Homo sapiens: one gene and its partners. The protein of the gene in region 3 purifies or fractionates together with the protein of the main gene of each other region. This does not show direct contact. Each region holds a gene or a part of one and is shown on either strand. Other genes may lie near its edges. The genes, in order: UBR3, RCN1 and EGFL7.

Region 1 (9,517 bases), on a different chromosome or scaffold from region 3:
TTTGGATGGGCAGTAGTTGAAAGAATATTAGCAACTACAGGTTGCTATCAGTTATTAAACTTCTTCAATTTTCAGGTCTTAGGATTAATGACAGAGTACAATCTTTTTATAAATGGTCACCTTTTTCTTCGGAGTACTTGTAAGGTTACTGTTACTCCAAAATGTTTGTACCTACTATGTGCAAGCAAGGCTTCTTGGATATTAAAAATGAATGAAACATTGACCAACCCCTTACTCTACTTGCACTGGAGTAGAAAGTAATAAATTCCTTAAACAATAACTTGGTAGCTAGAGGAGGGAGATGAGGTTTCTGTGCAGAGGGAGTAAGAAAAAGTCTTCAGAAAGGAGGTATTTTGAATTTGCTAATAATAATAACAACATAATTGCAGCTAACATTTGAGTTTTTTTTTTTTTTTTTTGAGACGGAGTTTCTCTCTTGTTGCCCAAGCTGGAGTGCAATGGCGCGACCTCGGCTCACTGAAACCTCCGCCCCCTGGGTTCAAGCGATTCTCCTGCCTCAGCCTCCCAAGTAGCTGGGATTACAGTCATGCACTACCACGCCTGGCTAATTTTGTATTTTTTTAGTAGAGACAGGGTTTCTCCATGTCGGTCAGGCTAGTCCCGAACTCCCGACCTCAGGTGATCCGCCCGCGTCGGCCTCCCAAGTGCTGGGATTACAGGCGTGAGCCACCGCGCCCGGCCAACATTTGAGTTCTTGAACTGTATGTCTGATACTTTAAAAGTACTTTTTAAAATTTAATATTTGAATAGGTAAAATATATAGCTAAAAAGTACACACACACACACACACACACACACACACACACACACACGGAAGTTTTTCTCACATCTAGTCTTCTATCTGTCCAGTTCCTTCCCGCTTAGTTTCTCTTGGTGCAGAACAAGCAAAGATGTTTCCTAGTTTTTCAGTCTCTTTTTATGCAAAGGGTTACATACTTTCCACTGTTCTACATCTTGCATTTTTTGGTTATCTTAGATGTATTTTTCCTATTAAAAAATCAGTGTCGTCATTCTATTTTTTTAAAAAAACTGCTGCATAGTGTTCCATGTTTTCAATTTGCCATTCTTTAATTTCTTTTTTTATTTTTATTTTTATTTTTTGTGCGTGTGAATTTGCCATTCTTGATTTAATGTCTCTTCATGGGCATTTGGCTTTCCAGTATAAAATTAAAAACGTGGTGTATCTGTCTTTTCCCCACCTGGTCAAGAGAGTCAGTGGGATAAATTCTCAAAAGTGTGATTTCCAAATTGCCCTCCCTAAGGCTTAGTACTAATTACTCTGTGAGACTGCCTGTTTTCCAACAGCCTCATCAACAGAGTAGTAGTAAAATTTTGGACTTTTATCTATTTGGTTAAAAGTGGCCAAATTCTAGCTGTTTTATGTGATTTAACTTATTTATTCTTTGACTCTGAGATTATTACTTTTATTATTCTCATTGTACAGAAGAGGAAAGTAGGGCAGAGTTAAAAACCTTGCTCAAGTTCACACAGGCAGTAAGCTAGGCATGCTGGCTCCAGGGCTCTGGAGCCAGACTAATCAACCATTTCTCTTTACTGCCCCTACTAAATAGCATTCTTACTGGTTTTTCTTTTCAATTCTATGTTTTATCTTTTTTTTTTTCCTTAATATGCTATTCTTATTTGGGCCTTTGTTTCTTTCTTTTTAAACTTTTTTTGTTTGTTTTGTTTTAAAGAGGCACATCAAAACAGGAGTTGGAGCAATCCTTTACTGATATTTAGACATTTTTACTTCTTGGACTGGGTTAGCATTTAGGAAAGCCTCCAGAGAACCTGAAGGTAGGAAATAACACTGATTCTTTCCTGACTTTTGGAATACAGTGGTAATTATCAGGTTGTCGTGGATGAGATGGAAGTCTGATCGCTTGTGATGCTTCAGTGTACTACCAGAAATATGTCAGTGAGTTTCTTTGAAGGTATTCATACAGTTTTAGGGCATCCAGGCTATAGACAGTCAACATCCTAACCTCATGGTATTTGCTTTTACTGGTGTCTCATAGGTAAGTATTATTTTCCCAGTCTGGCAACCCTCTATGAGTTGGTACATTATATATATATATATATATATTTTTTTTTTTTTTTTTTTTTTTTTTTTGAGAGAGAGAGTTTTGCTCTTGTTGCCCAGGCTGGATTGCAGTGGCACGATCTTGGCTCACCGCAACCTCTGCCTCCCGGGTTCAAGTGATTCTCTACCTCAGCCTTCCAAATAGCTGGGATTACAGGGATGCGCCACCACACCCGGCTAATTTTTTTTTTTTCTTGTGTTTTTAGTAAAGACAGGGTTTCTCCATGTTGGTCAGGCTGGTCTTGAACTCCTGACCTTAGGTGATCCACCCGCCTCGGCCTCCCAAAGTGCTGGGATTACAGGCATGAGCCACCACACCCGGCCGGATACATAATATTTAAAGATTTATTATTATCTTTGTCTGAAACCAGAGCTATTGCCTGTATGTGTCAGCAGTTGCCATGTCCAGTTTCATAAAGGGCAAGATTGAACAATAAACAGTATTGTGGCCATGCAATTACTCTGAATTTTTTCTAACTGCTTGGATTGGATAGAGTAATTTTCCTGGGCTATACAGCTAATTTACTGCCTCAAGAGAAATAGGTGATGTTGACCAGCTCTGCAACCTAAAAGACTGCCTCTGGAACCTTTTTAGAACTGGAAATCATCAACAGCTTGTAACAGTGTTCTCATGGGCAAAGCTGGACTACACTGGCATGAACAGAATGTTTGAACTTTTCTAAGTTTTTGGTATTTTAAAAACCCCTTTAGATTGCCAAAGATTGAATGTGTGTTGATTTTGGGGTTTTTATTCTAACTGCCATAAGTTTGTAAATTTCATGGTTTAGTCACTTTTAGAGGAAGGATTCCTTTTTTTCAGCTGTATTTGTGCTCTTAGTAAATGAGAATAAATCTTTCTGTGCCATAATCCTTTTCACCAGTGTCTGACTGTTGCCTGTAGGATGTTCTTGATTGGAGATGGAGAAGAATCTTGAATCTATCACAGCTGTATTTATATTTAATTTTCAAATTAGCAATTATAGAACTGTGGGGAGGATTTAGTTATTTTTGACTGAGTAGTATTGATATAATCAATGTGGCAGTATTAGCAGATATACAAACCAAAGGAAGAAAACAATTGAGGATTCATTTGTGGGATGAAATCACAAAGGCTATGGAAATTGTGTGCTAATAACTGTATGTGGCTGGGCGCGGTGGCTCACGCCTGCAATCCCAGCACTTTGGGAGGCCGAGGTGGGCAGATCACGAAGTCAGGAGATTGAGATCATCCTGGCTAACATGGTGAAACCCCGTCTCTACTAAAAATACAAAAAATTAGTCAGGCGTGGTGGTGGGTGCCTGTAGTCCCAGCTACTCGGGAGGCTGAGGCAGGAGAATGGCGTGAACCCGGGAGGCGGAGCTTGGAGTGAGCTTGGAGTGAGCTTGGAGTGAGATCCCGCCACTGCACTCCAGCCTGGGCGACAGAGCGTGACTCTGTCTCAGGAAAAAAAACAAAAAAACTGTATGTATAACTACAGTTTTGCCACTAGTGAGTAAGTGCAGTCATTGTCAGAAATGCTTTATGGGGGCCGGGCGTGGTGGCTCACACCTGTAATCCCAGCACTTTGGGAGGCCGAGGCAGGCGGATCACCTTAAGTCGGGAGTTCAAGACCAGCCTGACCACATGGAGAAACCCCATCTCTACTAAAAATACAAAATTATCTGGGCATGATGGTGCATGCCTGTAATCCCAGCTACTCTGGAGGCTGAGACAGGAGAATTGCTTGAACCCAGGAGGCGGAGGTTACAGTGAGCCAAGATCATGCCATTGCACTCCAGCCTGGGCAACAAGAGTGAAACTCCATCTGGAAAAAAAAAAAATGCTTTATGGGTGGATGAACTCAAAACAAAATAACCTGTAATGGAAAGTCTAAAATACACTCGTTCCTCAGTATATGGTATACATAGGAGACTGGTTCCAGAATACCCACCTCCCACCCACTCTTCAGGGTATACTGAAATGCTGCTTATATGAAAAGTCTGCCCTTCATGTATGTGAGTGTCAGATCCCATGAATTCTGCATTTTTGATCCATGTTTAGTTAAAAAAATCCTTGTATAAGTGGACCCTTGTAGTTCAAACTAGTGTTGTTCAAGGGTCAACTGTAATGTCTGACTAGCTGGTTTTGGGCTCTGATGGGATACTAACTGGAAACTGGGATTTTAAACATTTAGTTCTCAAATTTTGGTGCAGAGAATGAGGAGTTTCATGTTCTGTCCTATATTACAGATATTTTTGTCTCCTTGCTTGTTCTTCCTCACATATTCTAAGCTCCTTAAAAGATAAGGACCACATTTTGCTATTAGCCAGAGGCCAGCACCTACTAAGTCTCTTGTACTTAGGAGGTGTCAGTAATTTTGAATTAAATTGGATAAAAAAGTGGCTGCTATACCCAAAAAGTTACTGTAAGATTACATTGCTTTAGTTACTCATGAGGTGGCATTGATTATTAAATCCATAGCAGCTTTTTTCAGAGTGCTTTCATTCTTTTTTTAGTTTCAGAAGTAATACACATTGATTATAACATAAAAATAAGTGGATAAAGTAAAAAGTAAAGGTGCCTTTCTCCATCCTACCCCTCAGTAAGAAATTTCCTTTTCTTTTAAGGTTACTTATGTGTTTAAAAGAGATTAGTTATAATTTATCCAGCATTTCTAGATTTTTTTTTTTTTTAGTGACAGGTTCTCGCAGTGTCTCCCAGGCTGGAGTGCAGTGGTGTGATATCACAGCTCACTGCAGCCTCTACCTCCCAGGCTCAAGTGATCTCCCACCTCACCCTCCCAAGTAGCTGTGACTGTAGGCGCACACCACCACACACAGCTAAATTTCTTTTTGTATTTTTTGTAGAGATGGTATTTCACCATGTTGGCCAGGCTGGTCTTGAACTCCTGGCTTCAAGCAGTCTACCTGCCTCAGCCTCCCAAAGAGCTGGGATTATAGGCGTGAGCCACAGTGTGGTGCCTGGCCTGTGTTGTGGGAGGTTTTTAGGTTTTCTGATCTGTGGTAGCCAGAAATTGAACCACGTGAATGTCTGGTTGAATAGTGTTACTCTCTTCAGTAGCTTGCTTTTTTCCCCTTAACATATTTATGGATACTATCTCAAAAGTAGAACTGCTTCATTTTTAAAGTTAAATAGTATTTCATTGTATTTCCATGTTTTTGTAATGTACTATGATTTTTGCGGTCAGTCCCTACTGATAGACATTTAAATTGTTTCCAGACTTGGGCTGTTGTAAACATTGTTGCAGTCAGTATTCTTGTATACACTTGTTCATATGTGTGTGAGCTTATGTATGAGGATACATTCCTAGAAGTTATATCTTGGTTGAAGGAAATTTGCAAATTCAACTTTGATAGAACCCTCCAAAGAAATTAATTTACATTCCTGCCAACAATGTATGAAACAATTTGTTTCCCCATATTCTGGCAGTATATATGGTGGTATCAGTGTTTCTGATCTTTGCTGCTCTCATAAGTGAAAAGTTATATCCCATTTCATCTGTTATCTCCCTGTCCCACTGCTTTTTCGTCCCAGCCAGGACTATTTTGAAGCAAATATCAGATACCTTATAATTTAATTTAAAAATATTTGAGTATGCATCTCAGTAAAGAGATGTGAACTCTAAAACATAACTCAAATGTCCATCAGCAGATGAATGGGTAAGCAATATGTGGAATATACGTACAATGGAATATTTAACCTTAAAAAGTAATAAAATTCTGACACATTAGAATGTTACAATGTAGATAAACCTTGAAGACCTTATGCCAAATGAAATAGGCCCAGCACAAAAGAACAAATGCTTGTATGCTTCGGTCTATATGAAGTGCCCGGAATAGTCAAATTCATACAGACAGAAAGTAGAATAGTGATTATCAGAGGCCAAGGGAAGGGGAGATTGGGGAGTTATTTTTTTAACAGGTACAGAGTTTCAGTTTGGGAAGATGAAAAAGTCCTTGAGATCGATGGTTGTGATGGTTGCAAAACAATGTGAATGTACTTAATGCCACTAAAACTGTACACTTAAGATGTTTTAAATGGTAAATTTTATGTTATTTATATTTTACCACAATTAAAAAATAATGTCAGGTATGGTGGCTCGCACCTGTAGTCCCAGCTACTCCCGAGGCTGAGTTGGGAGTATTGCTTGAGGCTGGGAGTAAGAGGCTGCAGTGGATTATGATCACACCTGGGAATAGTCACTGCACTCCAGCCTCAGCAACATGAAGTGACCTCATCTCTTGAAAAGAAAGCAAAAAACAAACAACTCCCCCAAAACCACAATACCAATACTACACCTAAAATATTCATATTTTGTTTGTTTGTTTGTTTTGATATGGAGTCTCACTCTGTTGCCAGGCTGGAGTGCAGTTGCATGATCTCGGCTCACTGCAACCTCTGCCTCCTGAGTTCAAGCGGTTCTCCTGTCTCAGCCTCCCTAGTAGCAGGGACTACAGGTGCATGCCACCATGCCCAGCTAATTTTTGTATTTTTAGTAGAGGTGGGGTTTCACCATATTGGTCAGGCTGGTCTGGAACTCCTGACCTCAGGCAATCCACCTGCCTTGGCCTCCCAAAGTGCTGGGATTACAGGCGTGAGCCACCGTGCGTGGCCTAATTTTTAAATCATTATAAAACTCAGTTAAAACTATTTTCAATTATGAAACAATTTGAATTTACAGAAAAGTACAAAAGTAGTATAACAGATACCTTTGTACTTACCATTGAGATGAATAGATATTAACCTTTTGCCATGTTTGCTCTAGAGTTGCTTTTAGTCAAAAAACCAAAGAAAGGTCAACCCACCTTTCCCTTTCTCTTTTCCTCTCCAGACGTTAACCATTTTCCTGAAATTCCTGTGTGCACTGTCTCTCTCTCTCTCTCTCTCTCTCTCTCTCTCTCTCTCTCTCTCTCTCTCTATATATATATATATATATATATATTTTTTTTTTTTTTTTTTTTTTTTTTGAGATGGAAACTCGCTCTGTCCCCATCAGACTCAGGCTGGAGTGCAATGGTGCGATCTCGGCTCACTGCAACCTCCGCCTCCTGAGTTCAAGCAATTCTCCTGCCTCAGCCGCCTGAGTAGCTGGGATTACAGGCGGCCGCCACCATGCCTAGCTAATTTTCATATTTTTAGTAGAGATGGGGGTTTCACCATATTGGCCAGGCTGGTCTCGAACTCCTGACCTCCGGTGATCTTCCCGCCTCAGCCTCCCAGAGTGCTGGAATTACAGGCATGGGCTACCACGCCTGGCCCCACCAGGAATTTGAGGTCTTGTTTTTCTGCTTATTGAAACTTGGTGTTAATGAGAACACATGGACACCACGAAGGGAACAACACACACAGGGGCCTGTTGGGTCGGGGGCAGGGAGAGGGAGAGCATCAGAAAAAATAGCTAATGCATGCTGGGCTTCATACCTAGTTGATGAGTTGATAGGTGCAGCAAACCACCACAGCAACCATTTACCTATGTAACCTGTACATCCTGCACATGTAATTCAGAACTTAAAAAAAAAAAAACCAAAAGACACTTGGTGTTATATATATAAATTTATAATATTTTACCAATCTGTTGGATACAAACATCTTTTTAAAATTTATATTTTCTTGACTAGTAAAGTTGAACATCTTTTCATATGTTTTGGGGCCATTTGGGCTTCTTTCTTGGTGAACTGCTGGTTCATATTATTTGCCTGTTTTGTTTTTCTGTTTTACTGAGTTTTAAGAATGCTGTACATACTCTAGATGCTGATCCTTTGTTGTATAAATACTTAATTTCATCTTCTAGTTTGTGTCTTGTCTTTTTACCTTGAAATATATAATTTTGTTGTAAACGATTTTAAATTAAAAATGTAGTTTTTCTTCTACAGTTTGTATTATTTGTATCTTGTTAAAGAAATCTTCTTCACCTTGGTTTAAAAAAATGCTTATATGTTTTCTACTGAAAGATTTAAGGTTTTTCATTGTACACTTAGGTCTTTTGTCCATCTGGAATTTATTTTTACATGTAGTATGAGATTGAGGTCTGTATTAGTCTGTTTTCGCACTGCTATAAAGAACTGCCTGAACGGGCCCGGAGGCTCACGCCTGTAATCCCAGCACTTTGGGAAGCCGAGGCAGGTGAATCACCTGAGGTCGGGAGTTCGAGACCAGCCTGACCAACATGGAGAAACCCCATCTCTACTAAAAATACAAAATTAGCCGGGTGTGGTGGCGTGTGGCTGTAATCCCAGCTTCTCGGGAGGCTGAGGCAAGAGAATTGCTTGAACCTGGGAGGCAGAGGTTGCGGTGAGCCGCGATCACGCCATTGCACTCCAGCCTGGGCAACAAGAGGAAATCTCCGTCTCAAAAAGAAAAGGAAAAAGAACGGCTGGAGACTGGGTGATTTATAAAGGAAAGAGGTTTAATTGACTCACAGTTCAGCATGGCTGGGGAGGCCTTAGGAAACGTAGAATCATGGTAGAAGGCACCTAGTCACAGAGCAGCAGGGGGGGAGAAGCGAGCAGGGGAAATGCCAGATGCTTATAAAACCATTACATCTCGTGAGAACTCACTCACTATCATGAGAACAACATAGGGCAAACCATCCCCATCATCCAGTTACCTCCACCTCATCCCACCCTTGACGTGTGGGGATTATGGGGATTACAATTCAGGATGAGATTTTGGGTGGGGACACAACCAAACCATATCATTAGATCTAATTTTATCTTTTTCAATATGAGGATTCACTTATTGAACATTTTTTTCCTCCATTGATCTATAATGTCACCTCTATCACAGACCAAACCTATGTGTGTCCTAAGTTCTCTATTGTATTGATATGTCTCTTATAACAATACCATACTACTTTATTAGAACATTAAAATGTATTTTGATATGGCAGGATTTCCTTATTATTAGTCTTCAAAAGGGTTTTTGGCTGTTCTTGGTTCCTGTTTTCATTTGAATTTCAGGAGCTTGTCAAGTTCTCTGGAAAACTTCTGTTAAGATGTTGACTGGCATCACATTAAATATGAGGAGGTTGCAGAAAGATACATGTTCAAGTATGTTCATTGTAACACTGAAATAGGGAAAAATGGAAACAGTGAGATTAGTGAACTGTAGTTTAATCATTCAATGGAATACTTTATGGCAGAATACATAAATTGCCATCCATCTTAGTCTGTTTGTGCTGCTGTTACATCAGACGGAGTAATTTAGAACAGAAATTTATTTATTCCAGTCTGGAAGCTGGGAAGTCCAAGATTAAGGCATTTGTGTGTGTGTGTGTGTGTGTGTGTGTGTGTGTGTGTGTGTGTGTGTGTGTGTGTGTGTGTCTGGTGAGGCCTTCTTGCATACTCACATGGCAGAAGCGGGGAAGAGGGCAAACAGGGCCTAAGGTAGTTCCCTCCAGCACTTGCTTAAGG
Region 2 (9,983 bases), on a different chromosome or scaffold from region 3:
AAGACTAAAACATGAAACTTCAAGTGTCTTCAGGCTTCTTCCCCCAGGAAATCATAGCCAGACACAGCAGAATTCTTTTAACATTGTGCAGTGTTGAGCCCAGTTATGTGCCAAGCACTGCTCTGATCCTGGGGACACAGTGGAGACATGCCAGTGGGTTACCCAACGCCAACTGGGAAACATAATCTCAGGGTAATGACATCAGACTCTACAATCCTCTTTTGTGGAAAGGACAGCATCTAATCTATGCCAAATAAACATCTAGGACATAGCTCAGCCTGACAAATATTAGGGACTCAATAAATATTTGTTGTAAGAATAAATAAGATCTTAACCTTCTCTTTAACAATGTCAAGGGAGATCCTGGGAAAGGCAGCTAGGATGGAGATGAAGCCTAGCACTTTCATCAGAACACCTGGATCCCCGTCCTGCCTCTGGTCCCCATTATCTGCGTGATCTTGGGCAAGTGTCTTGACTCTCTGAGTTTCCCCATCTGTAAACTGAACACCTACTTCACAAGGAATGTTGTGAGGAATAAAGGAGAGAATGCATGCTTTTCCTCACTAAAGACAATAATCTAGATCAGTGGCTGATGGTAGCTGCTACACAGTAGCCATTCGGGTGTTTGTTGCATGAATAAATGAATGAAGTTAAGGTGTTGATGCAAGGAGCAAACCCAGACCAACTCCATCATCATTTGTTCTCAACACCAACAGGTAACAGAATGAGCAAAACCTTTTGATGGGACCTATGGCCACTTGGAGGTACCCTGCTAGCCGCCAAATAGGGCTGGCCGACTCTGCTGCAGACGATGACTGACACATGGGAATAAAGGTGTCAAGAGAAGCCAGATATGGGGGTCTGTATGTGAAACCATTCAAACTTTAAACGTGGGCAAGTAATTTACACTGTGTCGCATATTTATGAATGCATGCAGCCTACGGGTTCCCACTTTGCAACCTCTGGTCCAGGTGTCTTTAGGGGCCTTAGAGCTGTCACATTTTCAGGACTGACAGGTGATGGTGACAAAGTTGCCTAGATCCAGCCACACTCATTCCTCCTCAGCCCAATCTTGGAGGGGACCACTGAAACAGAAGCTTTGGACAGAGGGGCAGCTTCTCACACTCAGCCCCATCCCAAACAGGACCCATAATTTCCAGCACCTCCTACCCCGCCTCTACCCCACATTTAACCTACAAGTGAATGGTGCATCCATCACCCATCTGGTGGCTAAGGCCAGAGACCCGGATGTCCCCTTGATTCCTACCTCTCTCTTCTCCCCCTCATTGAGTCAAGAGCAAGAGCTGCCAGTTCTGCCTCCCACTGGTGTCTAGATTCATCCCCTCCTGGAATCCGGAGAGACCAAGCCCCTTTGGCATTCACCTCCTCTCCCTGCCACTGGTCTAGTCTGTGCCTTGATTATGTTCTCTGTGTACTGCCCTCCTGCCAGCCTGACTTTCCCAATGAGTTTTGGGGATTATGACATTTTGACAATGTACAGGATAACATCTCATGTCCATCTCACCAAGGTCCTTCCTGCTCTGCCCTTGGTTTCCCCTCCATTCTCACCTCTCACTTCCCTTCCCTGCCCCTTTGCAGACTCACCACCCCTCATGCCCCAGAACGCTTTTCAAACCCTTTAGAAATGGGCTGTTTTCTCTTCAGGAAGGCCTTCCCCTGCTGTACACCTGGCAACCTCCAAGTCATCCTACAAACTCTGATCAGGTGACAGCCCCAATCCCCTCTCTCTAACCTGCAGCCTTGGCGGCTCCTTCTCCTGAATGTGCTCACAGTAGGTTTTATAGGCCATCATTGCAGCAATTGTGCATAATGGCTAGTTTGTCTGTGCTTCTCTCCTCCACATTTGCTTACAAGCACTTCGACGCCCAGAGCATAAGGTTTCATCTTTGTACCTGCCAGTTATCTAAACTGGGGCCTGGTACACAGTAGCCATTCAAATGTTTGTTGCATGAATAAATGAATGAAGTCAAGGTGTTGATACAAGGATCAAATCCAGACCAACTTCACCGTCACTTTTTCTCACTACTAGGCTGAACTGTCACAATGAAGGCATTAACTGGAAGCTGCATGACCACACCTTATAAAGTTTTCCAAATCCCAAAACCTCTCCCTGCCTCCTCTCCAGTGACAATGTGGCTGCCACTCAGGGCTCCAGGATAAATCAGTCTCCAAGTGCCTCAAAGCAATACAATAGACTGAACTCATCAATGGCCCCTATTGTTAAGTCCTAACTGAGAAGAGAAAGTACTCTGCAAGATAAAAGGTAATTGTTTGGAGGTGACTTTGAAGTTCAAAGGTCTTTTTATCAGAGCAGGCAAATGGTGCACCTACACAATAGGTATAATTTATCCTCATATTCCAATGAAACACTTTGGCCTTTGGAGGCCCCCAGGAGCACAGGGATGGCTGTGTTCTCTTTCATGTGGCAGAACATGAAGATCCTCCACCCCCAGGAATCAGGTTCAGGGAGATCTGAGACCTGGTGCCCAATAGGCAGGACTGCTGGTTTCTTCCCCAGCCCTGCCTCCATCTGGGACCAGGCTGCCTGCTGGGTCCTCTGTGCAAGGACCACCAGATACCTCCGCACAGTGCCCAAGTGTTTCCTCAGGGGACCCGGGGAGGGTGTACTAAAATGCGCCGAAGTTTTGTTTCCCGGGTTTGGTTCCTGACTCAACTGCCTTTAACAGCCCAAGTCAAAATCCTCCACCACCAAGAGAACCCTCCAGCTTTTTGCCCCCCAAACAAATCAGTTGCCAAAGAACTGAGTGCTTCTGCAGACATCTGCTGCCAACAGAAACGTTTCAGGCGAACCGTTTCCATTCCTGCTCCCTCGTGTTTCCAATCGGAAACTGCGTGTCCCTTTTCAACCGGATTTTTGTATCCCTACACTAGATTTTATTTTATTTTTATTTTTATTATTTTTGAGATGGAGTCTCACTCTAGCCCCGGCTGGAGTGCAGTGGCGCAATCTCGGCCCACTGCTACCTCCGCCTCCCGGGTTCAAGCGATTCCCCTGCCTCAGCCTCCCAAGTAGCTGGGATTACAGGCGTGTGCCACGACGCCCGGCTAATTTTTGTATTTTTAGTAGAGACGGGATTTCGCCGTTTGGTCAGGCTGGTCTCGAACTCCTGACCTCAGGTGATCTCCCCACCCCTCCCCCCGCCTCGGCCTCCCAAAGTGCTGGGATTACAGGCGTGAGTCACCGCGCCCAGACTCCTTACGATAGATTTACAGGGCGATTAGGCAAAAGGCAAGACCACTGCGGCCGAGACCAGGAAGCAAGCCTGTCGCTCGCCTGCCCCTTCATCTTTTATCCATTTATGTTCATCCCTGAGATTTTCTTAGCGAGTGTCTCAAGCCCTTCTCCCCGGGAGTGGGGGATCAGAGAGAAACTGCGAGAGAGTGGGGAGGAACTCATGGCACTAACAGGCCACTGTGGACAAACTCTTCTTTTGTGCACTCTCCCCTCCCTTCTGATGCAACCTGGGGGAGGGGGCGGGCCCTCGCCGTCCTGGCTCCCGCGGCCGCTGCCACGTTCTCGCCTCCCCGCGAGAAACCACCCCGGCCGGGGCGCGGCGGCGGCGATCTCCAAGCTGGGGTCCCGGGGCCCTCCAGCAAGTTAGCCTGAGCCCCAGCGCCGAGTTGGGCAGGGCCCCATCCTCGAGGCCGCGCGCGCGATTTCGCTTTCGCTTTGGCGGTGGTATCCCGCGTGGCTCTCGCCCAGGCGGCCCTCGGACACCTGCGCCGCCCCCCACGGGGCCCTGGCCGCGGCCTCACCCTAGCCTCTCCTTGCTCTCGTCCGGGGTGAGCTGGTCGAAGGTCTTGGAGTCCTCCTTGCCCAGGAAGGCCTCGTGGTCGTACTGGAAGCTCTGGTTGTCCTCAGGGGGCCGCTCGCCCAGCTCCGAGTCGGGCCGCACCACGCGCTCTTTGCGCACCGTGGGCTTGGCCCGCAGAACCCGCGGCGCCAGCACCAGCGCCAGCAGCAGCCCCAGGGCTAACCCCAGGCGGCGGCCGCGGCCACCGCGCGCCATCGTCCCGAGGAGAGGGCGGCCGAGAGGGAGACGCTGAGCGAGCGACAACAGCGGCAGCTCGGGAATGGGGACTCGGAGCGCGGCGGCAGCGACAGGGTTGGGGCCGGCGCGGAGGAGGGGACTGGCCAGTCCCTCCGCCAGTGCCCGCCCCGAGCCGGAGCAGAGGGGCGCGCCTGGGCCTCGGGCTGGGAAGCTGCGGGCGGCCCCGCTCGCGCGCCCATTGGTCGCTGAGCTGCCGGGGGAAGCCGGGGCCGCGGAGCCACGTCGCCAGCTGGGGTGGTGGGCGCGGGGCTCGTGTTTCGCCTCGGCCCCTCCCCGCGATCTTGTTGCTAGGGGCGGGCCCGGGCGAACTGGGCTAGGGACTGGAGGGCTCGGAGGAGGATTGGGAAGTTCTTTGTCAAGCAACAGATGTGCAGGATAAAATTCCCTCTGACTTCCTACAGTTCCGGGAAAACTGTAAGGAAGGAGACGTTGCCCTTCCTCAACTTCCAACTGAGACCCCGAATCTCAGCCCTAGACCCTGCTCTAAGATGTGCTCTCAAACCCAATTCAACCCCATTTAGTAAAATTTGGAGTCTGGTTACAAACGCGAGCCTGGAAGGAGACCAAGACGGGCGAAGTCCCCTAGAAACGAGGGTCGTACTGTCAGTCGTCAAGGAGGGTCAAGCGGGGAACTTCTATATGACCAAGAGTCCCTCTAAAGGGAGCGGTACTGTGCGTTCCAGCTGCCAGGGGAACGCAGGCCCCACGCTGATAGATAGTCCTGTTTCCCAAATGAAATCAATCAGGATTTTAGATTTTTATGTTTTATTTCTAAATGTTGGTAACTCATTTTACAAAAGCACTAGTTGGATCCAATCTTACCTGTATTCAGTTGGTAATGCTACCAATACAGATATCTGTCCCATCAAACTTTCTGCAATGATGGAAATGCCCTCTATCTGGTCTGGCCTGTAGGTAGTGGCTGTTGAGCACTTGATGTGTAGCTTAGTGTAAGTGAGGCACTGAAATTTTAATTTAAATCTAAACTTAAAGAGCCACACGGGACTAATGGCTACCGTATTGGACGGTGAGGTCTCGAGCAGTCTCAGCCTTTTGACACTCATTGAAAGCCATGATCCTCTTCCAGAAAAATGCACATACAGCTACTGACACGGGTGCTTGATTAAAGAGTCGGAGGATTCATGGATCTTTTGAAGCCCCACCTATGAGCCCCAGGTTAAGAATCCCTAGAAGGCCGGGCACGGTGGCTCATGCCTGTAATCCCGGCACTTTGGGAGGCGGAGCCAGGTAGATCACTTGAGGTCAGGAGTTCGAGACCAGCTTGGCCAACATGGTGAAACACCGTCTCTACTAAAAATACAAAAATTAGCTGGGCGAGGTGGCGGGCGCCTGTAATCTCAGCTAGTCGGAGGCTGGGGTAGGAGAATCGCTTGAACCTGGGAGGCGAAGGTTGCAGTGAGCCGAGATCATGCCATTGCACTTCAACCTGGGAAACGAGAGAAACTCCATAAAAAAAAAAAAAAACCCTAGAAAACTGAAACGATAGTTGAAGAGGGAAACCCACCATGACAGCTAAATATCTGTACTCCTAGAAATTTCCTCCATCTTGCCTTGCCTCCCACCTCCATCCCTGATGTTTTCAAAAAGGTCTGGGATGTGCTTCTTGCCCTTGCAATAAAGATGTCGTCGCAACATAGACGCAAGTCCCTTTCTTGGGACGCCCTCTTTCAATCAATTAATAAATCATTACTGTCTTACTACTACAGCCTAAGCACTGGACTGGGTGCTGAGGGTACAATGGAGAACAAGATAATCATGGTGTCTGCAGAGCTATAGTGTATATGAACAGATGTTCATTCGTTCGTTCGTTCCATAAACTGAGCACCTGCTAAGTGTCAGGCTGTGCTGGATTCTGGCTAACTGAGATCCATGGATCACAAGTCAGCATGACAAGTGCTCACAGAGAAAGGCATGTAGTGGTCTGGGGGTACTGAACCGATCCAGACATGGGAATCAATCAGGGAAGGCCTCCCAGAGGAAGACACATTTAAATTGAGACTGAAGGTGAGTAAGATAAGCTAGATGGAAGGATGTAGTTATGTGAGAGAAGGATAAGATCCTGTACGAGCTAGCAGAGGACAGCTCCACATTTGAGGCAATGTCTTTGTGACCCCACTGGCTGGCAGTGAGAGCTGGGAAGCCAGTCCTTGGATCCCCGCTTCTCTTCCTAGTCCCCTTCTTTTCCTTGGATCCCCCCCTTCCCACCAGCTGACTTTGCATGGCACAAGAAGTACTGTGCCTGAGACCAGACATGCTTCCCCCAGCCAGCCTAGAGATCTGAATTTCTAGCAATAGAGGAGCATTACCTTGGGGGTGTAAGAGCTCCCTGCTGAAATGCAAGTGTCCTAAGGTAGGCGGTTTAGTACCTTCTGTGCTCATCAGGCAAGCAGGATATGAATTGTTGAGTGAGTGAGGGAGGAGAAGGAGGAGTGGGAGGAGGAACAGGGAGAAAAAGATTGGGGCTAGAAAAAGAAGGGGACTAGGAAGGGAACGGGAAAGCGAGTGGAGACTGGTGACAGTTTTTGCATATTCACAACTTTGGCCACAGGCTGGCCTGGGTCCCTGGGATTGGTCCAGACTCTCCAAAAAGGCATATCTTTTGCCCTTGTTATAGTTGGCTTCCTGCCAGACACTGGTGGTTTCCAACAGTTAGATTGTTTCAGAGGTAGTCTTGGCTCCTGTGGGAATTACCAGAGAATTCTAGCACTGCTGTGAATCCGGAAGAATTTACATAATTTCCCCTGGGCTTGCCTACACTCTTTTCCTTTATATTTATTTTCATCCCTCCACCCTACCATAAGAGTTCAAGTCCTCCCAATCAAAGGTTCAGGAAGGATGATGGGACAGAATAGTCAAGGTATTGCACTGTGTAATTGCTTTCTTTCATTTTCAAAGCTGTTTTGCATCTCCCCCCCATGTGCATGTTTGGGAAGAGTGACTAAGTGCATTGTCATGCCTTAGGTCTTAGGTTAACCTCCATTCTTGATGAAGCAGAGGAACAAGAACAAGATAAGTAACATTTAGCAGAGGGTTGATTCAGTGAAAAGGAAAAGCGAGTTTCAAATGGGTAAACTGATCAGCTTAGGGTATGCTGGTCTCCCGCATCTGGCCAAAAGTAACACCATCAACTACAACAAAAATCCAACCAGAAGTTACTGAAACAAGAAGAAAACTTTACCATCTCATGCAACAAGAAGTCATGAGTTATATTGGTTTCAGATTGGTTAATTTCAGTGGTTTCAGGACATCATCAAGGAATCAGGTTTTTTTGTTTTTGTTTTTGTTTCTCCCTCAGAAACAGTAGGGGAAAGGAATGTTCTCTCCCTTTCTTTGAAAAATAAACTTTCCCAGCAGACTGTCCCTCATATCTCATTGGCCAGAATTGTGTCATGTGCCTATGCTGGATCCAGTGACAGGCATGGGGAATAGAAATTCCATGATTGATTTCAACCAATCAAGACTCACTGGTAGGAGCTGGAAAGTACTGTATGTAGCATCCTCTGAAGCACATGATTAGGGTTCTGTGGGCGAGGAAGAACAAGCCAAATAGCTGTGTCTGCCACATGTTTAAAAGCACTTTCAGCATCTCTACCTCCCTCCTGCTTCTCCACCATTCAAAATTACATGAACTTTTCAGGTCCCAACTCAAATGTCACCTTCTCCATGAAGTTTTCCCTTATACCTTAAATCAGAATTAATTATTTCTTCATCAATATGCCCAGAGCCTTTGTATCTCACATACTTCTCACAGTCAGCTTTGTATTAATTTTTCTTCCCTTCTAATTCTGAATTCCTTGAGAGAAATGATCACAGCCGATTCATGTCCATGTTCGTAAATCCAGGGCCTACCATATTTACTGCCTTCTGGCAGAAGTTGATCGCCATAAGACAGATTTGCTGTGAGACCAGGACCATATTCTTTTGGCTCACCACTGTATACTCAACCTAGTATAGTGCCTGGCTCATAGTAGGTGCCCCTAAAATATCTTGAATGAATGATAAAATAACAATAGCTACCAACTTCTGCTTCTGGTCAAGATGGAGTGAAGGAGGGACTGGATTTATCCTCCCATTTGAAACAAACAAACAAAATATATGAAGCAACAGTTTTCAAGACACTGGACACCAGGCAATGAACAACATTGGAAACAAACTAGGTGAGTCCCAGGATTACCCCAGAATTACCTTGGCAGAGTTGCCAGGTCACTGTGCAGAGAGGGAGAACTAAGATGGATCCTGGCAGACTCCTGAAGTTGAAAAGACAGAAGTGAGTGTCCAGAGAGACCAAGTCAGCCGTGGTTCTAAAGAGAGAGTACTGGAGAGAAGATGGCTGCACAGAGAGAGAATCCCAAAGCTCCACAGAGGATCCCCTTGGCCATTCAGCAAAGTGGTGAACAGTGCATGCGTGTAGGCTGAGGACTGAGCCATCTGAAAGGATTAGAAGGAACAGTGGGTGCCAGGCATGGTACCTGTTCCCATCAGTCAGACTGGAAAAACTCATCATTCATGGGGCACTGGGTACTTAGTAAGGTCTTGCCTCAGTGGTGGGGAATAATTAACCCTAGACTGAGCACTGCTCCAGAAAGTGCCTCTCAAAGCACAAAGGCAAGACCTGAAAAGCTCAAGAAAACATACAAGAATTAAAAAAAAAAAAAATTTGGCACCCAACAAGGTGAAATTCACAATTTGCATTATCCAATCAAAGACACAGCAAGGCAGGAAAACACAGCGAGGAGAATAATCGGTCTGTAAAAACTGACCCAGAACTGACACAGATATTAGACTTAACAGAGAGGAACATTAAAACAATTATTGTAATTGTGTTAAATGTTTTAAAAGTTCAGAAGAGCCAGAGAAAATACAAAAAAGACACAAATTGAAAGCCTAGATAGCAAAACTTTGAAATCTGGGATGAAAAATACACCATATAAGATTAACAGAAGGTTAGATATTGCAGAAGACAATATCTTTTTACTAATTAAATACTTTATTGAATAAATACAATAGCAAAGAATGCATTCAAATGCTTTCTAAAAAATTAATTTTAAAGGTCTTTCTATTCAGACTAATGATAAACGCAGTAAAGGCAGATGTGCTAGTTTAACATAATTGGCTTATTTCATACAGCACTTTTATCTTTTAGTCCACAAGTATATTATTAAATGATAGAGAACATCTAATGCAACCATTTCCATGGGACTAGGAAATACATTTCTAAGAAAGAAAGATGTTATAGACCCCATCTTTTATACCCACCCCCTCAGTCTAACTCTAAAGAAGATAAAAAAATAATGACTATCTTCACAAGGGCTCATGACTAATGTCACTTTGCTATCAAAATCTGTATCTCTGATCGATTTTAAGCATTGAGACAAGATTCAAATATTTCCAAAGAAAGAAGCACAATGCACATTGTGGTCACTTATTCAGCAACAACGAGCACTGCATCCAAAACTATCTCACTTCGGAATGAAATAAGGTCAGCCACATGCATGGGCATCTCTTCCGCTATGGTATCGTAGAAAGTCTCAGTGTCATGAACAATCTATTTGTCTTCTTCAGTAACAGTTTATATCCACACCTTTCTTCCCAAGTCGACCCCCTCTGCCAATTCTTTGTTCTAATTGTGTGCTGTCTCACTTATGATTCCACGTCCTAAATTACATCAATGCCATTTCTGAGTACCATCTTGCCATCAACTGCTGCTGTCGACTCCTGTGAATATAGTTTTCACAATTGGTAGGTAGATCACAGTTTGTAACCAAAGACACTCATTGCTCCTCCATCCCACAAGCCGACAAGTCATTAGTGATCAGAACACAGCTTGACCCTGATCAGAAATCCCTCATGCTAACATCTTTTTCCTTC
Region 3 (9,813 bases):
ACTCGAGGGTCACATGACCCTCCTTCAAGAATCTGCTGGAAGCTACGGACCCCTCCTTCCTCCCTCCTGGGAAGGACCCAGGCACAAACTGTCTGCCCCATGACTGGGAACTGGAGACCCCGGGACCCTCCCCAGGGCTCCGAAGACCCTCCATGCCCTGGTCTGACACGAGGGGAAACTGAGGCAGAGAAGCCTTCAGGGCACCCATGGTCCCTGACTCTACTGGAGCTCTATGACAACCCCGCAAGAGAGACAGGGATGAAGCCTCCAGGGAGGGACCCCCCACACCCTTCCCAGAAGCCCACAGACCCCAGAAGCACAGGCATCCCCAGGGGAGGGGTGCCCCACACACTAGGGGCTCCATCTGGGGCTCACGCTGCTCCACAAGGCTTTCTCAAGTCAGACCACCAGTGCCCACCTCGTGAGCTGCCAGGCAGCACCCAGTGTCCATCTGGGGACCCCTCTCCCAGGCTCACTCCACAGTGGAGGCCTCTTCTCTCTCCTCCCCTCCAGACTCCCTGGGTGCTGCTGGGGACATCCACGGAGCCTGCAGCACACAGCCCCCTGAGCCCACACTGCGCTCTCACCCCAGCCAGGTGTCTCCCCTGTGAAGCAAGTCTCTCCCTAGGGACGGATTCTGCCGTTTAAAAAATAAGATTTTCTTCACCTTCCTACATGAACAAAAATAACAATACAGCAATACCACTGCAAAATCATCAGAATGGCTAAAATGAAAAAGACAGACAACAGCAAGTGCTGACAAGGGTGTGGGGCGGCCAAATGCTCCTGCACTGCTGGCAGGGGACCTGAGAACTGCAGGGCATTCCCTGGCTTCCTGCCCCTCCTGGGACTGGGGACCCCCCAGGGACAGCCTAAGGGAACTGCATTTATCTTCACGTCTGCCAAAAGATAACACGAAGATGTTCAAAGCTAAGCCCCCAGGCTGGTAAGAGCTCCAAGGCACCAGCAGTGTGTGCAGAACTGGGGGGAGTCTGTTCTCCCAGGGATGCTCCCATCACCTGCTGCCAGCAGTGGGGCATGCCGGTCCCCTGGGGTGTGGCCAAGGGGCTGTGTCTCCTGCCCGGGCTGCCGGCCCCTCTCAGGTTCACTTTCCCATCTCTAAGCCCACGTCTCGCTGCAGTTCAAGTTTGCCAGGCCACCAACGGGTGACACGCCCGGCGCAGTGGGGGACTCCGCACTTTCTGCGCACCTGCTCCAAGTCACCTCTTCCAGGTCCGGGTCCCTGCCCTGTGGAGCGCGCACCCGGGCAGGGGCATGGAGCACCGGCAGGACTGGACTTTGTGCTGAGTGTGGTGGCGCCTTAGGAGGAGGTCACACAACCCGATGTGTCCCTCCGCGAAACTCCCTGAGCACTGGGTGTGAAGGGCAGCGGCGCCCAGCAAGGCCGAGGAGGGGCGACTGTTATCCAGGCAGGAAGCGGGGTGGACCGGACCAGGGTAGGGGCAATGTCAGGAGAAGGGGACACTCAGATGCAAAGCCGGTGGGGACCTGCCAAGAAGCCAGCCCACAAGGCCATGGACTCCTCCACGCCATCAGCTGGAGCAGTGGGCAGCCCCAGGAAGGGAGACGGGAGCGGCCAGGGGAAGGGCGAGGGGTCCCCCGGGCGACCCCCGAGGCTCAGGCGCCCGGACTCCAGTCCTGGGCCTCCGTTTTCCACCCTTGAACAAGCGGCTTCCACCTGTGAGCCAGCTGCCTCCTCTGAAAATGGAAGCCCCTCAACTCAGAGGGTGTCGCTCTGGGACGTGGGTCAGGGGCCGGAGCAGGCAGGGAGAGGTGAGAGGAAAGGCTGGGGACCCTCACTTCTCCCTGCCCAAACCCTCGCTCGGGAGCAGACGGCTCCTCTGCCCGCAGGCACCCCTGCCTGGCAGCTCCCTCCAGCCCCCGTCGGGTCCGGGACGTCCTCTGATGGGAAGGTTCCACCACATCCGTGGCTGACAGAGCCAGCCCGTCCGAGGCCGGGGGGCGCTCGGGGTAAACAGGAAGCCCCATCCCTCCCGCACTCTGCTTCACTCCCTCCTCCTGCACCTCCTGCAGCCCGGCTCCCGCGGCCGCGCCTGGTGCCCCTCTGTCTCGCGCCACCTGAGATGCCCAGGCTGGCCTCTGCCAGGGGCTTAGTCTGCCCTCTCCTGGGGCTTCAGAGGCCAAAAGCACCCTGGTGAGGGGTCCGGGAGGCCCGGGAGGGCCCGGGGGGCTCTGCCAGGCCCCTCCACGCCTCTCTGCCCAGCCAGCACGCTCTGGGAAGGTAAGGCAGCCCTTCCCCTTATAACTAACCTCAGAACATTCCCAGGTGGCTGGAAGGCCACTGGACAACATGGCCCTGCTGACAAGAGAGACAATGGGGAAACTGAGGCCTGTGTGGGGCACAAAGCTGGGACCAGAGCTCCAGCTTCCTGCCCCTGCCGGGCCTCCACCTCTGACACCACCCCAGGCAGGGTGAAGCCCTGGGCTCCAGACCTTCCAGTGCCCAGATGAGGACAGGCGCAGGCCTTGGGGTGGCCACACTCTCCCACCAGGTCTCCCCCTCTGTGCTGGGCCCCTGAGGTGAGGGGAGGAGGCCAGGCGTGGGGCCCGGCCTGGCTTCTGTGGGGCTGGAGCCTGGGCAGGAGGCACTGCTGACTCCCAAAATGATTCCCTGCTGAAGGTCTGTGCCATGATCCCAAACACACACCACCAGAGCGGCCAGGGCAGGGAAGGGGGCACCTCCAAGGACCGGAGGGTGAGGGAGGGGCCCGCCTGCCCCTTGCTGAGCCCCTGGGCCTTGGGCACAGAGTGTGCTCCACCCATACCAGAACCCGGGGGCAGCCCCAACCCCCTGGACCCCCAGTACCCTCTGGCGTCCAAGAACCCATGTCTGTCCCCTGCCAACCCCCCGCCCCTCCTGTCCCCGCTGGGCCCCCGACATTAGGGCAAGGCCGCAGCCCACCTCCTGTACCTGCCTCTGAGGCTCCAGGAGCCCAAGAGAGTGGAGTGCCCCTCCTGTGGTGGCTCCAGGCTATGGGATAGGGCAAAGCTGGCACTCTGGGCCTGAGCCCAGGCCTCCTTCCCTTGGGGAGGGTCTAGTCTTGGCCTGGGGAGGGGCTGGGGGCAGGGCAGAGCTTATCAGGAGGGGGTTGCAGTGAAGAACAAGTTGGCAGCAGGCGGTGCCCAGCCCCCCAGGCTGTCACCCAGGAGTCCAGTGCCAGGAGGACAGCCTGGGGAGGACGCAGACTCTGCCCTCGCCCCTTGCCTGTAAGCACAGCAGTCAGTTCACCGGGAAGGCCCCCAGCGGGCCAAGCCTTAGCAACTCGTGCACTCGGCTACTTAGCTATTCCTGCCCCGAGCTGTCCCCTGGCCGGATAGGTCTGATGACAGGGGCTGCTCCAGGTTGGGACATAGGACAAGCTGGGGTGGGGGACATGGGGCTCCCCAAGAAGAGGAAGGAAGGGTGAGGCAGCCTCCTGTGCCGAGCATCCCAGCCCTGTCCGGCCTCCAGGCTCACCTGGGCCGGTCACTTCTCCCTCTGGGCCTCAGTTTCCCCCTCTGTACACAGAAAGGGCTGGATCTAGCCCACCCCATGCTTGTGGGTCCTTCCACCAGGAGGCCAGGGCAGATCCAGGGGCATGCAGGTGGGGGAGGAGGGGGCAGGCCGCAGGGATGCAGGCAGAGGGCAAGAGGGCACCTCCTGGGATGGGGGCACAAGCCTACTGGGCCCCTATACGGTGGAGTAGCTAAGTAGCCGAGTGCACGAGTTGCTAAGGCTTGGCCCGCTGGGGGCCTTCCCGGTGAACTGACTGCTGTGCTTACAGCCAGGGGCGAGGGCAGAGTCTGGGTCCTCCCCAGGCTGTCCTCCTGGCACTGGACTCCTGGGTGACAGCCTGGGGGACTGGGCCCGGCCTGCTGCCAACTTGTTCTTCACTGCAACCCCCTCCTGACAGCTGGAGGGACAGGCTGGCCAGGGCAGGATGAGCCCCTGGGTGGGAGAGCCAGGGGGCCGAGGGAGGCACAGGGCGGCTGAGGGTGCAGCCAGTAGGGTAAGGGCCAGATCCCAGGGTGGCCTAGTGTGGAGGAGGTGGGGAAATGGGGTTCTGCCTATCTGCTCCAACCTCAGGGCAGGGGCCACCTCTGGAAAGAGGCCCCTCCCGCTCAGACCAGCGGTGCCTGGGTGCCAGGAGCGCCCCCTTAAACCAGCTCAGTGACCATGAAGCAGGTGCAGAAACAGGCCCGGAGAAGAGTGAGGTCCTGCCTGGCTGAGGCCCTGAGCCCTGACCACAGCCTGGCGCCCAGAGCAGACCCTTCCCCTGGCCGTGGGTAGAGGGGAGCTGGTTCCTGCTTGAGGGGGAGGCGCATCGCGTGTGGGTGAGGTTTCCACCTGCCCTCCAAAGTCCCGTGGGGAATTTCCCCAGCTGCCCCAGCCTCCCTTGGCTCAAGTTGCCCAGCTGAGTGGGGCTGGAGAGGTGGGGGCACACTGACCGCCCAGGGCCAGGGAAATGGGGGTGTCCCAGGCATCAGGCCGACAGGGGCTGACCCCAAAGCAGGGCTCACACCCCACGGACAGCGGGGTTGGGAGAGGCCCTGCTCTCCTGGGGTTCCAGGCGTGCCCTCCAAAGCCACCCAGCTCCCTTCGGCACCGTGTCCCCTCCCACCCAGCCCACCTTTGCCACAGTGGCTCGCTCGGCCTGAGGCTCCCACTGCCGTGTGAACAGGGAAGATGAGGGTCAGACCTGGAGGCTGGGACGCCGGGAATCTGACAGAGCACCCCCTGTGATCACCCACAGTGTCCCGCATCCCTCCCCACACCCCCGGCCGCAGCCTGCTGCCAGCCCAGAGCACCCCTGTGAAGTGGGGCTGAGGGCATTGGGCCTGCTTGCCCATCTCCAGGGCAGGGGCTCACAGCCTCACTGGCAGCTCTTTTAGGGGAGAGAGCTTGGACTCCATGCTTGTCCCCTCCCGTCACCCCCTCACCATGGGCCTCAGGGACCCACGGAACAGGCTGTTCTCGGACCGCTCAGCCTGTCTTGCCACCCCAGTCCCTTCCTGCCGGGCCTCGCCACTCGCCATCCCTCACTGGTCAAGGCTCCTGTGTGGCTGGTCCCTGCCTTGGCCTGGGGCCCCTCCAAGCTCCCGTGCTGTGTCACACACATCTGGGGGTGTCCTGGGGGAGGGCCCAGCATCCTTGGCCCAAAGATGCAGCAGCTCCCTTCTGTCCAGCCACACGTGAGCATGGCCTGTGAACCCACGGTCCTGGGAGGGCCCTGGGCTTGCGTCCTCCACCCCACACTCTCCCCAGGGTCTCCAGCAGGGTCCAGCCCTGGTTTCTGGCTGTTTTGGGGCTAGACTCTGATGGCCCAGGGGACGGCTTCCCCACCCCTGGGCAGTTTGTCCAGGCCCCCTCACACGGTGGCCCCCACCCCCCTCAGCCTCCTGTTTGTCCGACGACACGTCCCCGTTATCAGCGGAGAACACACACAGGAAGTCCGGCTGGGAAGGGCCCATCCCAATCCCGATTACCCAGGACGGAGCATAAAAAGCCGCCCTTCCTCGCCCGGGGGGAGCCTCCCTGCACCAAGCTGGCCCTGCACGGCTGCAAGGGAGGCTCCTGTGGACAGGCCAGGCAGGTGGGCCTCAGGAGGTGCCTCCAGGCGGCCAGTGGGCCTGAGGCCCCAGCAAGGGCTAGGGTCCATCTCCAGTCCCAGGACACAGCAGCGGCCACCATGGCCACGCCTGGGCTCCAGCAGCATCAGGTATGGCAGGGGTGGCCTCGGAGGGGCAGGGAGCGGACAGGGCGGGCCCCCCATTCCCCTCACTCCCGCTGACCGTGGCGCCTGCTGGCTGCTCCGCAATCTGCTCCCCAGCGAGGTCACAGGGGAGGGGTCCCAGTCTCCTCCCCTTCTGCACAGAGGAGGCCACTGAGGCCCCTTGGCCAAACGCCTGCTAGTGGGTGGCCCAGCGTAGATCCCAATCCAGTCTGCTGACTCCAACACTTCACCCCCAGTCGCCCTTCCCCTGAACCCCACCCTCTGGCCTTTCTCTCCCTCCGCAGAGCAGCCCCTGTGGTTGGCAGCAAAGTTCAGCTTGGCTGGGCCCGCTGTGAGGGGCTTCGCGCTACGCCCTGCGGTGTCCCGAGGGCTGAGGTCTCCTCATCTTCTCCCTAGCAGTGGATGAGCAACCCAACGGGGGCCCGGGGAGGGGAACTGGCCCCGAGGGAGAGGAACCCCAAAGCCACATCTGTAGCCAGGATGAGCAGTGTGAATCCAGGGTGCGGGACGTGGGGCTCGGGCTTAGGGATGACTTGCTGGGTGCGGTGGGCAAATGGGTGACTCTGTGGGCCCCCCTTGGACCCTGGAGACGCCCTTGTTCTCCCTCTCCCCAGCCTCATGCAGAGTGGCTGAAGCCCCATCCCAAAGCCCCCAAAACCACAGTGGGTCCTAGAAGGCCCCACTTTTTGTCTCATACGTCCACACCAAGAAGCCTGTCTGAGAACCCCCACTTTCCAAATGGTGCCTAGCCAGGATGGGGGCAGCGAGGGCTGAGTCGGGGCAGCCCTGGAGCTGCCCTTTCTGCTCCATCGCCTCTTCCAGACTCAGGCAGGAGAGGTGGGGAGGCAGGTCAAAGGGTTAAGTGACCGCAGATCCAGAGATGAGGCCAGGGGCAGGGGACAGGGAGGGTGGCGGTGGCTCTCCCACCCAGAGGCCCCCTAGGCCCCACTCTGAACACTTCACTGCTGGGGGCTAGGTAAGAGCTGCCCTGCGTGGGCTCAGGGCGCCAGGAGGCCTAGGACTCCCCAGTCAGATGAGGAACGCCCCCTGACAGCAGCTGCTCTGGTCGTCCCTTGGACCACGTGCCAGGGGCTTCCAGGGCCCCTGGTCCAGAGCAGTGGCCACTGGATTGCAGGGTGGGGCGGCCTCATTTTGGGGACTCCTCTCCAGGGACCTGGGCCCCTCCCTTCCTCCAGCTCCCATGCACCAAGGTAGGACCAAGCTGGTGGCCCTCTCGGACCCATCTGCAGGCCCCTTGCCCAGCACCCTGGGTTACATGGAGAGACCTCCAGCTCCACTCACAGCAGCCTCCCATCCCCATGCCAGGGAGTCCAGGGCTGGAGGCAATAACCCCATTTTACTGAGGCCAGGGGCTGCGGATCCGAGAGGACAATCAGCTCAGGACAGGATGGGGTCGGGGTAGGTGCAGGACAGGGGCCTGTAGGCCTAGTGCAGGCGGAGGTCCCACAGCAGCACCGAAAGCTGGTCCCGGGCCCCTTCCCAGCCCCCAGACATCAGGGTGACCAGGACTGTGCATAGGCACTAACCCACAACTCCTCTCCAACCAGCAGCCCCCAGGACCGGGGAGGCACAGGTGGCCCCCACCACCCGGAGGAGCAGCTCCTGCCCCTGTCCGGGGGATGACTGATTCTCCTCCGCCAGGTGAGTCCCAGCAAACCCCTTGCTCCGAGGGAACACTTCTCACACCGGCGCCCACGCGGGTTATGACACAGGGCGCTGGCTCCGGCTGGGGTCTGAGGGGCTGCTGAATTGGGCTGGCCCGAGCCCCACGTGCCGCGCCCGCAGTAACAGCTGTAACAATTGTTGTGTGGCCACGACCTCACCGTCACTAGATCCCAGGGCTGTTTAGCCCCATCTTATAAATTTGGAAATGGAGGCCTGGAGAAGAGAGGTGACCAGCCCAGGGACCTCTGGTGTGAGGAGACTCTCTGGGGGCCTGTGGATTCGCTGGGAGGAGTGTTCTGCGATGGCCCTGACTGTGCTGAACTCAGCAGTGACCCAGTGACCCCGGTGAGGGTGCCTGATGCCTGAGAGAGGGCCAGGTGGGGGCCGGCGCAGGGGCCCCCAACCTAACACGCTAAGGCTAGGAGGCAGGCCTGGGCTCTGCCATGTGGTCTCAGAGGAGATCTGGGTCTCTGGGCCTGCGGTGGGGACGGTCATGATGCCCACTGCCTGCGAGGCTGCAGGACCCAGCTCAGTGCTAACCTGCGCCGGGCGCCTACCGCGCGGCCCCCCAGCGGCTGAGATGGGCGTCCCGGGGTGGTTTTCAGCCTGGGGGGCTTGAAAGCTAGCAAAGGGCCCGCAGCCCCGTCAGTGTGGGCGCCCTGGGCGGCCTCTCCTGGCTCCTGGCGGCCGGGCTTGGTCGTGCGTCCCCAGCGACCGCGCAGCGAGCGCCCTGCCGCGGGGACTCGGGCCCCAGGATTCCCGGAGGGGGTGCTGGCGGGCCGCGGCTCAGAGGCGCGTTTGCGTCAGCCCCGGGTTCCAGCAGAGTCACTGCCCGCCCGGGGGCAGCTCGTCCGCCGCGGGGCCTCAGTTTCCCCGTCTGCGCAATGGGGGCGGGGCGGGGCCGCCAGGTGGGGCGGGGCCGGGGGCGGGGCGGGGCGGGGCTCGGGGCCCCCACGGCGCGGGCTCGGGCGGCAGTGGCGGCGGCGCGTGCGCGCCCCGGATCCGGCGGTGAGTGCGGAGCGAGCGGGGCGCGCCGGGGTCGGGGTCCGGTCGCCGCCCGGGCTGGGTCGAGGGCGGGACCCGCGGAGCCCCCGGGGGCGGGGAACCTGGCCGCGCGCGGAGCTGGGGGCGGCTCCGGGACGAGGCAGCGCGACCGCTGGGGCCGGGGGCGGAGCGGGCCGGGGCGCCCGCGGCTGGGTCGGGCCGGGCCGGGAGAATGGGCCCAGCGGCCCCGGGAACCGGCTCCCCCTGCCGGCGGCGGGCGGGCGGGCGGCGCGGCGGGGAGGGCCGGGGTCGCCGCGGCCCCTCGTCCGACCCGGCGCGACTCAGCGCCTCGGGGCCCAGCCTGTGCCGCCTGCTCCGCCCCCCGCGAACCCCGGAGCCAGCAGCGCGGCTGGGAGGGGGCGGCGGGCAGGTCCGTCTCGCTCCGCCTCTGCGCCCTCCCTCGTGGGCCCCGCGGTCCCCAGCCCTGCTCCCGCCGCGAGGGGTCCGCCAGTGCCTGCGGCGCAGCCAGGCCCCTCCCTCTGCGGACCCGGCCTCTCGCGGGTGGGGGCTGCGGGGCTGCTGCCGGGCAGGTGGGGAGGGAGCCCGTGGGCGCTGGGGGCACGGGGACCGGACTGCTGGTCCACCTGGCGCCGCCGCCCCCTCCCCGCCCGGCACCCCTGGGTCGAGGCCGTGGCCCCCCCCGGGGAAATGGGGCTTGCAGCACCGGCTCGGAGAGCACCACGGGCTTCCTCTGGCCTCGGGAAAACATGACTTTCAAAAATTGAGTCTCCACTTAGCACCGCTTCCTGTCCAGGCGACTCTCAGGAATTGTGGGGGGGAGCTGTGCCAATATGTGTGGGGGGCAATGAGGTCTGGGAGATTCGCCTACCCCCAGGCCCGCCCTGGCATCCCCCTGCCCACATCAAGCCGCCGGGCCGCTGCCCTACCTCTTCCTTCCCGGGTCCCACTCCCCAATGTCCCCCGACTTCGAGTCTTGCCTTGAGGTCGCACCAGACCCAGCCCCTAACAGTGTCCTTCATCCAGGGCCCATCCCCAGAGTTAATCTCCAGCCAGCTCTGCCCCCTCGACAAACTCCTGCCCAAAAACTGCTGTGATGCCCCCCCTGCCCCCAAGCTAAGTCCCCACCCCTCAGCTGCCCAGGGCAGCCTCTGCCTAGTTGGCAGCCTCTGCCCTGCCCTCCTCTCTCCAGCGCACAGAGGACTGGAGGCCCAGGAAGGACCCCCAGCCACCCTCCCCGCTGGGACCGGGTGATGCCTTGGCAGTGCCCGTGGGAAGCAGGTGTGGGATCGTGCTCCACACCCAGTGGGGCTGGCCAGCAGCGACTGAGGACAGTGTGACTATTTATAGGACTGGCTGTCAGAGCTGA

Evidence for each region.
Region 1: the proteins of EGFL7 (region 3) and UBR3 purify together in Homo sapiens (co-immunoprecipitation; 2 studies listed by BioGRID and IntAct, with this or other methods). This does not show direct contact.
Region 2: the proteins of EGFL7 (region 3) and RCN1 purify together in Homo sapiens (co-immunoprecipitation; 2 studies listed by BioGRID and IntAct, with this or other methods). This does not show direct contact.

What each region holds. Positions count from the first base shown.
Region 1 is NC_000002.12:169,829,022-169,838,538, forward strand, and holds part of UBR3 (E3 ubiquitin-protein ligase UBR3), read left to right. Parts: intron 1-9,517. UniProt on the Homo sapiens protein: E3 ubiquitin-protein ligase which is a component of the N-end rule pathway. Does not bind to proteins bearing specific N-terminal residues that are destabilizing according to the N-end rule, leading to their ubiquitination and subsequent degradation.
Region 2 is NC_000011.10:32,085,266-32,095,248, reverse strand, and holds the start of RCN1 (reticulocalbin-1 precursor), read right to left. Parts: upstream 4,176-9,983; 5' UTR 4,053-4,175; coding exon 3,799-4,052; intron 1-3,798. UniProt on the Homo sapiens protein: May regulate calcium-dependent activities in the endoplasmic reticulum lumen or post-ER compartment.
Region 3 is NC_000009.12:136,657,368-136,667,180, forward strand, and holds the start of EGFL7 (epidermal growth factor-like protein 7 precursor), read left to right. Parts: upstream 1-5,548; 5' UTR 5,549-5,711; coding exon of another isoform or gene 5,712-5,741; intron 5,742-6,040; 5' UTR 6,041-6,256; intron 6,257-7,321; exon of another isoform or gene 7,322-7,324; coding exon of another isoform or gene 7,325-7,418; intron 7,419-8,400; exon of another isoform or gene 8,401-8,450; intron 8,451-9,813. UniProt on the Homo sapiens protein: Regulates vascular tubulogenesis in vivo. Inhibits platelet-derived growth factor (PDGF)-BB-induced smooth muscle cell migration and promotes endothelial cell adhesion to the extracellular matrix and angiogenesis.